Regions from separate parts of the Homo sapiens genome. Here regions 1 and 2 are each linked to region 3. The links come from fine-mapping of genetic effects on gene expression. A gene starts in region 3. Each other region holds a variant in brackets. All regions are shown on one strand. Distances are from middle to middle. Region 1 overlaps SLC15A2 (solute carrier family 15 member 2). Region 2 overlaps SLC15A2 (solute carrier family 15 member 2). Region 3 holds the start of SLC15A2 (solute carrier family 15 member 2).

Region 1 (4,245 bases), 48 kb before region 3:
TCACTTCTTGGGAAATCTCTTCCAGTTTGATGGCTTTAAATACCATATATATGCTGATGATTCTCAAGTTTATGTTTCTAGCTCCAACCTCTTACCTGATCTTCAGACTCATATATGAAACTGCTAACTTAATGTCTCTAATTGGATATCCATTAGCATGGGTAGAAGCTCAACATGTCCAAAACAAAACTCATACCAGAAAACTTTTCTTATCCTAGTCTTTGCTATTTCTAGAAAATTGCATCCTGATTCATCCTTACTACTTAGGACCAAATCTAGGAGTGAGCTTTTTTCTTTCTTTCTTTTTCTTTTCTTTTTCCTTCCTTCCTTCCTTCCTTCCTTGCTTCCTTCCTTCCTTCCTTCCTTTCTCTCTCTCTCTCCACCCCCCACCGCTTCTTTCATTTTGAGACAGGGTCCTATTGTCCAGGCTGGAGTACAGTGGTGTGATCATAGCTCATTGCAGCTTTAAGCACCTGGGCTCAAGGGATTGTTCTGCCTCAGCCTCCTGAGAAGCTGGGGTTGCAGGTGCACACCACCACACCCGGCTAATTTTTTTATTTTTATTTCTTGTAGAGAGGGGGTCTCATTATGTTGCCTAGAGTGGTCTTGAACTCCCGGCTTCAAAGAATCTTCCTGCCTTATCCTTGCAAAGAATTGAGATTACAGGTGTAAGGCACCACATCTGGCGCATTTCTTTCTTTTAAATTGTGTATCCAAACTACACTCAAATCTTGTCAGTTCTAGCTTAAAGTTTAATTCCAAGTCAAACCATTTCTCTCCACCTCCACTACTATCACCTTGTCCAAGTCACTACCATCTATTGCCTGAACTATTGCAAAAGCCTCCTAACTTAACTCCTTACTTCTTTTCCTTCCTGACTATAGATAATTCTCCCCTTAGCAGCCAAAGTGATCTTAAATGATCACATTATGTCACTCTCATGTTCTAAACTTCCAATGGTTTAACATGTCACTTAGAATAACATCAAAATGTCTTACAATGGTGACAGTCATATATGTCCATATATAGTCAGAGTCTTTAATATGCAAATGTTAAGAAAAACTCTATATTGCAGTTTCAGTCAATGACAGACCAAATATGTGATGGTGGTCCCATTAGATTATAATACTGCATTTATACCTCTTTTCCAATTTGTGTGTCCACATTTTTTCAAATGAATTATGTCATTCACTTTTTAAAAAATTGATACATAACAGATATAGACATTTTCAGAGCACATATGAATAATTTGATACATCTATATAATGTGTAAAGTTTTTTGTACCGTTTCTATGTTTAGATATGTTTAAGTATAAAAATACCATTGTGTTACAATTGCCTACAGCATTTAATACAGTAACATGCTGTGCAGGTTTGTAGCCTAGGAGAAACAGTCTACACCATATAGCTGGAGAAACAGTCTATACCATATAACTTAGATGTGTAGTAGGCTATACCATAGGTTTGTGTAAGTACACTCTATGATGTTTGCATAATGACAAAATTGCCTAACAATGCATTCCTCAAATGTATCCCTGTCATTAAGTGATAAGTGCTAGAATGTAAGCCCACATTATGATGTAGTTTCCAAAAACAACTCATGTTACCTTACACTGCATTAACAGAAGTGCATTGTTTGAAGAAAGGCAGGTGCTAGTTCTTCCAGTCAGACTACTTTGGAATGTTATATTTGACTCCAGGCACTTCATATTAAGATATCTTAATATTAATTGCTGTATTTCAGATAAAGAATGTTTTTCAGAAGACAGAAAGTAGGATGGTAAAAGGACAAATTATGCCTGGTGAGGAACCATTACAGGAACCGAGAATCTTTACCTTGAATACTTGATGATTAGGGAAGAGCCATGAAAGTTCTCCCCAAATAGCTAAACATCTGCCACATGAAAAAGGGGGTATACATATTCTTTTCTTTTTTTTTTTAGATGAAGTCTCACTCTTGTCCCCCAGGCTAGAGTGTGATGGCGTGATCTCGGCTCATTGCAACCTCTGCCTCCCGGGTTCAAGCAATTCTTCTGCTTCAGCCTCCCGAGTAGCTGGGATTACAGGCACCTGCCATCACACCTGGCTAATTTTTGTACTTTTAGTAGAGACACGGTTTCACCATGTTGGCCAGGCTGGTCTCGAACTCCTGACCTCAGGTGATCCACCTGTCTCAGCCTCCCAAAGTGCTGGGATTACAGGCATGAGCCACTGTGCCTGGCCGGCTGTTATACTTATTCTTGTTAGCTACAGGGGAAAAAAAACAATGGTAGGAGGTTTCAGAGAGGAAGCTCAGCACTTACAAGGAAGAACTGCTCAACAGTTTTTTCCAAACCAATGTTCTGCAGCGTACATGTTAATTTAAACAAGGTATCTTGTGTCTTTACTGCAGGATATCTCAGAGTCTTTAATATGCAAATGTTAAGAAAAGGATACAGTATGCCACATTTCCCAAA[C/T]TTATTTGTCCATAGACACTTCTATTTACAGAACTGTGTTAATGTCTCTTGAAACAATGGTCATAGAACAGTTTGGGTTAAAGCTATTTAAAAATGAACAGGCTGTCTTCTAAAGGAGTAGGGTCAGGTTCACATCAAGATATCTGGAAAAACTGGTTGGTCTGGCTGCCGCTCTTATATTTCTGAAATGCTTGTCATTAAAACTGAAGTATATAAAGTTTGGGCACTTAGAGCAATTTCTCTTACCTGTTAACAGTAACATTATCTGTTAATATTAACAGGTGCCTGTTAACATGAACATTGTTACGTATTAACATTAACAGTATGAGACCCAACACTGTTCTACATGAGAATAATGTTTTAAAACCAATGGAAATGAAGCTCTCTAGAACAGTGATTCTGAACTTTTTTCCTAGTAACACACTGCACAGTCGTGCCATTCCCGTGTCTGTCCTCTGATTCATTCATTGTGTATGAGGTAATGTTTCTCAATTTTTTTTCATGACCATACACATACACAAACAAAACCCTCATGCTCTACCATCCCTACTCCCACAAATTTTGATAGGAACCTCACATAGGACCATGCTCCTCTATTGACATTTCCATTTTAGAACCTCAAACCTAGAGCATTAATGTAACTTTTTTTGAATAAAAAGAAAATTTCTAGGCTTCAAGGCAGAAATGGTATTTAAAACTTATGGGAAAAGTAAATCAGGAAAACAACATCAAAAAGGAACTACTTTGATATTTTTGAGGCTAAATGGAAACATTAATAAAGGAAGTTGGACTTATAGAAACATTGTTGTTATTGAATATTTGCTGCAATAAGCAAGACAAGGTGTAATAATAAGAAAAAGCTGGATCAGCAAGGTTGACAAGACAAGGTTGCAAATTATAATTATTGTTTATACAACTGTTCACTGAAGGGCATAGACCAGCGCCATAGAGGCTAAGAAGAATGTACTCTGTAAAAGAATGACTGGCTCTTCAGGATTTCTACAACTTACACCTGTTCCTGTTCTCCAGAACAATGTTTACTAATGCTTACTATCTCTAATCTGGTTTCCATGATCTATCCATACTGAGAAAGGAGGGTTTGGATAAGTAAATAAAATACTATCATAATCAGAGAGATATAACTTCTCCTGTGTTTTAATAAAATGGCATTCTGCTTCCTACCATCTATATTGACAAATTTACTAAAGTCATATCAAACCTAGAGAGCTGACAAGCCAGGCCCTGGCTGGACCAGATCACATCATACATACCAATTCTTGAGGCCCCTGTGAATAGCATAATTACATTGCTTATAAAAAAAAAAACTTGAAATACCATTTCTTTGTTATTCTGCAATTTTGCCTCTAAATCAGCACCTCAAAAATTAGGGCCATCAGTCCTAAATGGCAGTTACCTATAAAGGAATTCCCATAACTTTGCATACCCACAGAGAATGATCTCCATTATACGTGTGTATTTTCATGGTCATTTGGAGACACCAGGCCAGCTCCAGCAACACTGCACAAGTTTTAATGAGTTCACTGATGGACGGGCAGACATAGAGTCTCTGGGGCCTTGTTTAAAGATGTACTGGAAAACCAGTCCTGGAACTTCTGTCATTGGAGAAAGGTGGAGGAGATCAGCTCTGATATGCTGCTATCTCTCTTGTCTAATCCAGTAGAAGAAAAAAAATGCTTCAAGACAGGGCCAGGAATTGGGGTCAGGACAGAATCTAGGGAGTCATCAGAGTTTTGTCTTCTTGGTCTCTAGTTTGATCATGTTCCCCTGG
Region 2 (4,245 bases), 24 kb before region 3:
GGAATTTCATTTCTTTAATTTTCCTTTTATTTTCCAAATTAACAATGAGCTGGTATTACCTTTGTAGTTATAAAATAGTGGTTTTTTCAATTTCATTCAATTAAAATCAGTAGAAATACTCCATCTTGGTTCCCTCCCAGATGCACTTTCCTCCTTAACGGATTTCCCAGCTTCAGCGTGATGCCCCTCTAGTAGATCCTCTGCTAAAGATGATTTTCTCAGTGACAAGTAGCATTTTCCAGTATCCTTACACATCAGAATGCACAAATCACTTTACTTTTCTCTCCCATCACTTTTTAATATCTCCATTCGTCTCATTTAGATTCACTCTACCACTTTTTCTCATTCATCCTCTCAATTTCCCCAAAGCTTCTCCAAATAGCATCCTTTATCTATAATACCCTTCTCATGGTTGATAGAAAAAATAGTTCAGTGGAGGAATGCTAATCCTGAGAGTCAAGTGGGCAGATAAAAAAGTACCTAGACGGCTGGGCGCGGTGGCTCACACCCGTAAACTTAGCAGTTTGGAAGGCTAAGGCGGATGGATTACAAGGTCGAGAGATTGAGCTGACCAACCTGGCCAACATGGTGAAACCCCATCTCTGCTAAAAATACAAAAATTAGCTGGGCGTGGTGGTGCGCACCTGTAGTCCCAGCTACTTAGGCGCTAAGGCAGGAGAATCACTTGAACCTCAGAGGCGGAGGTTGCAGTGAGCTGAGATTGCGCCACCACACTCCAGCCTGCTGACACAGTGAGACTATGTCTCCAAAAAAAGTAAAAAATAAAAAACAAAAAAAGAGATACCTGGACAAAGGAAAATTTTGGGTAGGGAATAAACTGCTCCTGAAACTAAGAATGATCCTAGAAAGAGGCTGGACACCACAGGAATGCTGGTTGCAATAGTGACAGTGGAGTGATAATAGGAAGACTTATGTAATCAACTAAAGTCATACTTACATGTCAAAGACACTTAACTAAAGAAGATGAGTATAAACCTTGAATTTCTCTACTATCTACTCCTTCTAGTAGATGATGTTGCCTCTTACTTCACAAAGAAAATGGAAACCTTCAAATGGAAACTCCTTCAACTCCCTGCCACCAGATCTATTAATTCTTGTATCCACACTCATCCTGTCCTCCCTCCAGGTAGGTGAAGGTGATATTCCTCCTCCTATCCGCAGCTAATTTGCTCATATGTGTTTTCATACTGATTATACTGTCTTTATCTTGTATCTTCAACCTCTTTCTCCACTGGATTATTCCTAATAATATTCACACATGCTCAATATCCTCTCTTGAATCCATGTCACCTTCCAACTATAAATACTATTTCACTTTCTTACTGATAGTGACAAGAGACAGATAAATTCCTAGGCAGACACGGACGGGTCCCAGTGAAACCCGACCTTCAAGCCAAAGACAGTTTAAAGCCTGAAAACCGACTTGCCGGTTCCTGATAGAGTCCATGACCTGAGTGAGAACTTCTATCTCCGTCTTATCCTCTCTCTCCATTGGTTCCTTTTGGATGATGCCTTTTAACCAATCTAGTGGTACTTTTTCCAAACCCACCCATGGACCAATCAGCATGTACTCCCCCATTCAAAACCCATAAAAAACCCACACTAAGCCTCACAGACGGCTACCTACTTCGGGTCCCCTCTAGGAGCTCAGAGCTTTCCTTCTGCCACTCAATAAAATTCTTCTCTGCTTTACTCACTCTCTGGTGTCCACACACCCCATTCCTCTTCATCATGGGACAAGAACCCGGAACTTGCTGAGCTGTGGGTGATGGGAATGAAAGGGCTGTGACACCC[C/G]TGGGCAGCTCGCCAAGCTATGGGCAGCGGGAATAAAAGAGCCGTAACACGCTCCCGCTCGCTAGACTACAGGAGAGAGTTGTAACATGCTCCTGCTCGTTGAACTACAGGAGTGAACAGCTGTAACATTTCTGGGGGCTCAGACCTTGGGACTCCCTGAGCAGGAGCTATAACACCTCTTAGGACTCTGCAATTGCTAGCATCTCCGAGTTTTTGGGCGCCACCGTGTTCCCCTTGTCTAGATGCCGCACCCAACACAGAAGCTGCTCGCTACATGCCCAGTCCAGTCGCAGGCTGAGCGAGCCCAGTGGGCCAGAGCAAGGCCCAGACAGAGGCGGTAGTGGCCACAGAGATTTCTGGCTGACAAAGCAGCACTGAAGGAATCCTGTAACATTTACTTCTCAGTCTCCTCCAATCAGTCTTCAGCCTCCACCATTTACCATAACTGATCTAATCGTATCAGTGACCTCCTTGTTGTTGTATTTAATAGACATCTGTCACCCTTATCTTAATCTCCCACTCAGGAACATTTATCACTCTAAATGAATCTTTTCTTGAAATCTTCTTCATATCCAAGATAACGCTATTACCACTTTGGCCATTCCTTCTTAGTCTCATTTGTGGGCTTTTCCTCTTTGCCTGTCTTTTAAATCCTGGCGTTTCTTGAAGTTTGAACCTATCCCCCCACCCCACTTTTTTTTTTAACCTTACTCTTCTAGCTTTTAGTTATCTATCTTCATTTCATGGTTTATTGCTACCCATATACTAATGACTCCAGATCTATATCTATAGTGCAAACATTTCTTCTAAGCTCTAATCCTGTATTTCCAAATAACTGTTTGGTAACTCCAATTAAATATTCCAAGAACATATAAAATGCAACATGTTCAAAACTAAATTTATCAACATTGCCCCAAACTGGCTTTTCCTCACTAGCTCAGTTAATAACCCCACTACCTACCCAGTTGTTCAAGGTTCAGAACACTACATTAAACCTTGGCTTATCTTCTCCCTCACTTAACATATCTAACCATTCTAAGGTTTGTTAATTCAACCAGGGCCAGATTAGGGTAAACTGAGTGAAGCACTCATCTCAAGCACTAAATTTAAGCAAGTATCAAAAAATTCGGTAATCAAAATAAATATTATCTTTGCCTCACTCCAACACAATCCTTTCTCTACATTATAGAAACATCATTGAAAAATTAAAATCTAGCAATTATTCCTCTGTTAAAATGTTTTTAGAGTTCCCCACTCTCCCTCACAATAAAGTTCTAATTTCTTATTGGTTTAAAAGGCCCTTCATTATCTGGTTTCTGGCAGTTTCTCCTCTTTATCATTCTTTTTTATGCTTTAGGTAATCTGAATGCCTTTAAAACCTTTAAACATGTCATGCTATTTCTCAGCCTCTTGTCTTACAGCTACTGTGTCCTCTTTCTGCATCACTTATAATTTCTTTATTGATTAATTGCTGTTTGGCCCTTAGGTCTCACCTTAAATGTCATTCCTTTAGGCAAACTTTTTACAATCCCCAAAGTATTATTTATTTATTTATTATTTTATTCATTTATTTATTTTTGAGACAGGGGCTTGCTCTGTTGCCCAGGCTGAAGTGCAGTGGCTCAATCATGGCTCATCGCAGCCTTGACCTTCTGGGCTCAAGCGATCCTCCCATCTCAGCCTCCCAAATAGTTGGGATCATAGGTGTGCGCCATCATACTCGGCTAATTTTTAAATGTTTGTATAGATGGAGTCATGCTGTGTTGTCCAGGATGGTCTCAAACTCCTGAGCTCACGCAATCCTCCTGCCTCGGCCTCCCAAAGTGCTGGGATTACAGGTGTGAGCCACTATGCCCGGTCCCTCAAGGTCTTAATTAAACATTGCTTCTATGCATTCCCATAGCTCTCTCTGTACTTTCCTAGATCACACTATATTGATCTGGGAAATACTGATCATACCATATTGTAAATTCCTTTTATTTGTTTGTCTTCCTTTCCCTACTGAACTATATAAGTTCTTTGGGAACATGAATGCTCTAGGTATCTAATTCACCAATGTGATCCCAATACCTAGCACATAATATGGCACACAATAGGTTCATTAAATGTTGGTTAAAAAAATGAGTGAATGAAAAAATAAATTAATTGGCTGGGCGTGGTGGCTCACACCTGTAATCCTAGCACTTTGGGAGGCTGAGGCAGGCAGATCACAAGGTCAGGAGATCGAGACCATCCTGGCTAACACGGTGAAACCCTGTCTCTACTAAAAATACAAAAAATTAGCCAGGCATGGTGGTGGGCGCCTGTAGTCCCAGCTACTCGGGAGGCTGAGGCAGGAGAATGGCGTGAACCCGGGACGTGGAGCTTGCAGTGAGCCGAGATCATGCCACTGCACTCCAGCCTGGGCGACAGAGCGAGACTCCATCTCAA
Region 3 (4,245 bases):
CCAAGAGCTGTTAGCTCATACCTGAGGAACAGGTATGAAAAATGTAACTGAGATAATGAGAGCTTTCCCTCCCCCCCCTTTTTTTTTTTTTTTTTTGGAGATGAGTTCTTGCTATGTTGCCCAGGCTGGAGTGCAGTGGCCATTCACTGGCACAATTACAGGTGCCTGATAACCTTGAACTCCTGGGCCCAAGCAATCCTCCTGCTTCAGCCTCCCAAGTAGTGGCGACTACAGGCACATGCCATCATGCCCAGCTCCACCCACTTACCCATTCTCAAAGTCTATGTTCTGGTTTGTCTCAGGCCTTTCTGATCTTGGCCTACATATTAGGTGAAATCCTATGAGAGATTTATTGGAAGTCTTGGCCAAAGTAAAGGACCAATTTGGACCAAGGCAGAAAGAGTGGACTCGGGAAATAAGTGCATATAAAGAGACCAGGCTGTCACAAACATGGGGTGAGGGTGGGTGGAGGAGAGTAGGTAGGACTCTTGGACACAAAATTACCTTTCATTCCATAATAGGAAAAGCGCTCGCAGAATTCATTCACCACAATGAAGGCAATGCTCAGTGGATAGTTGGAGCCACAGATTGTCTATTCAACAAGAAGGCAATGATTCAAGCATGAGCTGTTTTTCCCTGTTTCAACAATTAGATTTCTTCAAAACTGAAAAATTCATTTATTTCAAATCATCTTGGTAGGTAATGGAGCAATGGTCTCTACTCTTCATGACACACCTATTAGGTAACACTAAAAGTGCTTATATTACTGATTTAGAAATAATAGAAGCTACTCTGAATATTATTTTGTTTCTTATTTATTTTACATGGACTTGCTCAAATATTCCTTGGACCTGCTCATCTTCCCACAACTACTAAATGAAAAGCCTAGGGCTCTGGGGCAGAAGAATGGTGATATTTACTTCCTAGGAACAGAATAAAGAGGTAGCCTATGGAATACCTGATATCCAAGCAGTGAGATTCAGATGTCAGTCTCTGCTTAGCCCCACTATGGGGACTCTTGTCCCCAGCTGTTCTGTTTGCCATGCTGGGAGGAATCCTGGCAATATGATAGCTTCTACTTCAGAGGCTGCTGGAGTCAGGCACAGAGCCCAACATGGAGGACAGAGATTCCTAAGGGTAAGCTAATTGATCACCTTGACTTTAGGCAGAGTTCTTAAATCCTGTAAAATTAAATGTCTACTCTTCCTACTAAAGAGATTCTATAACATTTTCATGATAATCCTACTGGACATTAAAAGAATTATGCTTTTCATGTAATATATCAGTCAGAATATAAGGAATGTTATGTTTTATTTTAATTCCCTATCTATTACAATAGACCAACTAACATGAGAAGAGACATAGAGGTATCTGTCCTCAGTACAGTCAAATCTTGTAAGATTTATATTGCCTCATTTCATGAGAAGTATATACATCTTTGCAAGTAGCCCTAAATTCTTTGGGACCAGAAGAGATATCATTAACTAAAAAAATAGGCAAAATAATAAAGTAATGTATTATTCTTTTAACCCTAGGGATATATATAAATGATCCTCCTAAATATTAATATATTTTAATGTTTTATAATAGCTTGTTTGAAACATACAATGAACTGGGCTTCTTACCTTTGCAGCTCACAGCTTGAGAATTATGCAATCTGGAGTTTAGCCGACACACTGTTAGCTAGTTAGGCAACACTGCCACTGGCTGTGTTAACATACTGATACTGGCATTGTCACTACACCTGTCTCAAAACCTCTGTTCTGTTATTCCAAAGAAATGAGAATAACATCACCTTTTGGCCCACTGTAAGAACTCAGTAAATTTTGGCTATCATTACTATATCCTCCCCACTTACAGAATTTTAGTGTAAGAATTGACTGAGATGATGAGTTTAGAAGTGCTTTAGCGAGTATATAAATGCAAAACATTACTATTCTCTGTTTCTCTGTCCTATCTCCCACAGTAAACTGGGAACACATAGTAACAGAAATTGGATCTATTCTGAAACTTCCATTGGTGTTCAGCAGAAGACTCTGCACACAGGGAGAACTAAGGGCAGAGTTTTTATATTGGTAAAGAAAGAACAATCACACACAGTTCTTCAGACAAGAATGCTTGCCAAGTTTCCCTGGACATTCGAATTGCTTTTTTCCCCCAGGGAAACAGAATATGCAATGAAATTCAGCAAGTCCCTGGATCCCAACTGAAGAACTTTGACTACCTCTTCCTGCTGCTTTGTCTTCTTATGTAAAGGAAGCTTCTGTTTAGATTTGGTTTCAGGTGAATTCTAAATCCAAGAGAGAAGCATTTTAATACCCTAATACAGCTCAGCTGGAAGCTCCAGAGCCCAAGGAAGAGAGCCAAAAGAGGGAGGCCATTCCTCTCAGAGGCAGGATTGAATCTAAGGACTCACCGGAGATGGCTTCTTTGGAGGGCTAGGTGGTCGAGGTGGTACCTCTTCAATGGAGACAGGTGAAAAAAGAGTTTCCTTGGACTCATTTTTCTGGAAAGGATTCATGGCTGGCTCCTTACTCTCTCTCTCTCCTCAAGCATTTGGCTTTAGTAGGCAGTTAGGACAGCTGCCAGCCTACTCTGAAAAGAAGGACTGGGAGGGGGAGCTGGTGGCTTCAGCAACTCAGTTTAACTCTGTGGGTGTCAGCTTCAATAGCTTCCTGATCCAGAGCAAAGCAGGAAGCTATAGTTAAAAAGAATGTGTAAAAGTACAGCACAGCAAAGTGAAAACATGCCAAAGACAGAATGAAACAATGCTAGAGAACTGATTAGAAAGTCTATGTTTAAGAAAGATTATCTTTGCAAAGGAGTAGAAGATAGTTAAGAACACAACACCTCGAGCACAGATTGAAAAACTGATTCCATGGTCAGGCGCGGTGGTTCACGCATATAATCCTAGCACTTTGGAAGGCCCAGGCAGGCGGATCGTTTTAGGTCAGCAGCCTGGCCCACATGGTGAAACCCCGTCTCTACTAAAAATACAAAAAAAAAATTAGCTGGGTGTGGTGGCGGGCGCCTATAATCCCAGCTACTCAGGAGGCTAAGGCAGAAGAATCACTTGAACCTGGGAGGCGGAGGTTGCGGTGAGCTGAGATTGCACCATTGCACTCCAGCCTGGGCAACAAGAGCGAAACTCCATTTCCAAAAAAAAAAAAAAAGAAAAACTGATTTCAGGGTAACAATAGCTGTAATTTATTGAACATCTACTATTGAAAGGTTAATATATATGAATTACATCTATGTTGTATATCTATAACATATATATTTATTCTAATTCATATTACTATCCCCATTTTATAGAAAGTAATGTTCCCAGAGGTTAAGAAATTTGTTCAAAGTACCTGTCCACTAAGTGGCAGATCTGGAATTTTCACTATGCCATGACAGCTGGGAAAAGTGGAGTTAGTGTCAGTCATTATTCAGGTATGGAGGTTACATAAATGGAATGTAGGAATGCAGAGGATTAAAATGCATTGGAGAAGGAAAGTCATCATAAAACTGAGTTTGGAAGATAAGAAAGATGGTGAGTTTTGGCTGGGTGCAGAGGCTTACGCCTGTAATCCCAACACTTTGGGAGGCCGAGGTGGGCTGATCACAGCTCAGGAGTTCAAGATTAGCCTGGCCAACATAGTGAAACCCCATCTCTACTAAAAATACAAAAATTAGCTGGGTGTGGTGGCACGCGCCTGTAGTCCCAGCTACTCAGGAGGCTGAGGCAGGAGAATCGTTTGAACCCAAGAGGCAGAGGTTGCAGTGAGCCGAGACCCCACCACTGCACTCCAGCCTGGGCGACGGAGCAAGACTTGAAAGAAAGAAAGAAAAGAAGGGAAAGAAAGGAAAGAAAGAAAGAAAAGAAGGGAAAGAAAGGAAAGAAAGAAAAGAAAAGAAAGGAAGGAAGGAAGGAGACTTTTGTTTTCAACATCATAAAAGTTCAGCTAGAAATAGCCTATAAGCAATTAAAGAGGTGGGGCTAAAGAAAATGAGAGAAAAGGATTGGTGATATACATTTGGGAACCATTGTTCTTCTTTGCTAAAGTCACTCCTTATATTTTCATTTTCTCACTTCAAGATTAATCTATTCTTTCATTTAATAAATAAAATTTAATTTGAGCAAAAATTGTGAACCAGTTACTTTCTAGGTACTGTTGTGAACACCATTTTCCTTAATTATACATTTAGTCCTTATCAGAAGAGGAACAAGAACAAACATCATAATGCTAGGTGCATTTT

Evidence for each region. PIP is the estimated chance that this variant, and not a neighbour inherited with it, causes the effect.
Region 1: its variant is the best candidate, but not a certain one, in a credible set for the expression of SLC15A2 in whole blood (INTERVAL, PIP 0.77).
Region 2: its variant is the best candidate, but not a certain one, in a credible set for the expression of SLC15A2 in whole blood (INTERVAL, PIP 0.84).

What each region holds. Positions count from the first base shown.
Region 1 is chr3:121,940,962-121,945,206 of GRCh38, reverse strand. It overlaps SLC15A2 (solute carrier family 15 member 2), which reads right to left. Exons shown (of 22, transcript NM_021082.4): 22 at 1,019-4,245. The coding sequence ends at 4,200. Among named protein-coding and RNA genes, the nearest start is that of SLC15A2, 49 kb to the right of the region's middle. The variant C/T (reference allele first, on the strand shown) is at 2,457.
Region 2 is chr3:121,916,837-121,921,081 of GRCh38, reverse strand. All of the region lies in intron 7 of SLC15A2 (solute carrier family 15 member 2), which reads right to left. Among named protein-coding and RNA genes, the nearest start is that of SLC15A2, 25 kb to the right of the region's middle. The variant C/G (reference allele first, on the strand shown) is at 1,816.
Region 3 is chr3:121,892,753-121,896,997 of GRCh38, reverse strand. SLC15A2 (solute carrier family 15 member 2) reads right to left here and starts at 2,597. Exons shown (of 22, transcript NM_021082.4): 1 at 2,417-2,597; 2 at 505-592. The coding sequence starts at 2,521. RefSeq lists enhancers at 3,105-3,637, 3,638-4,171.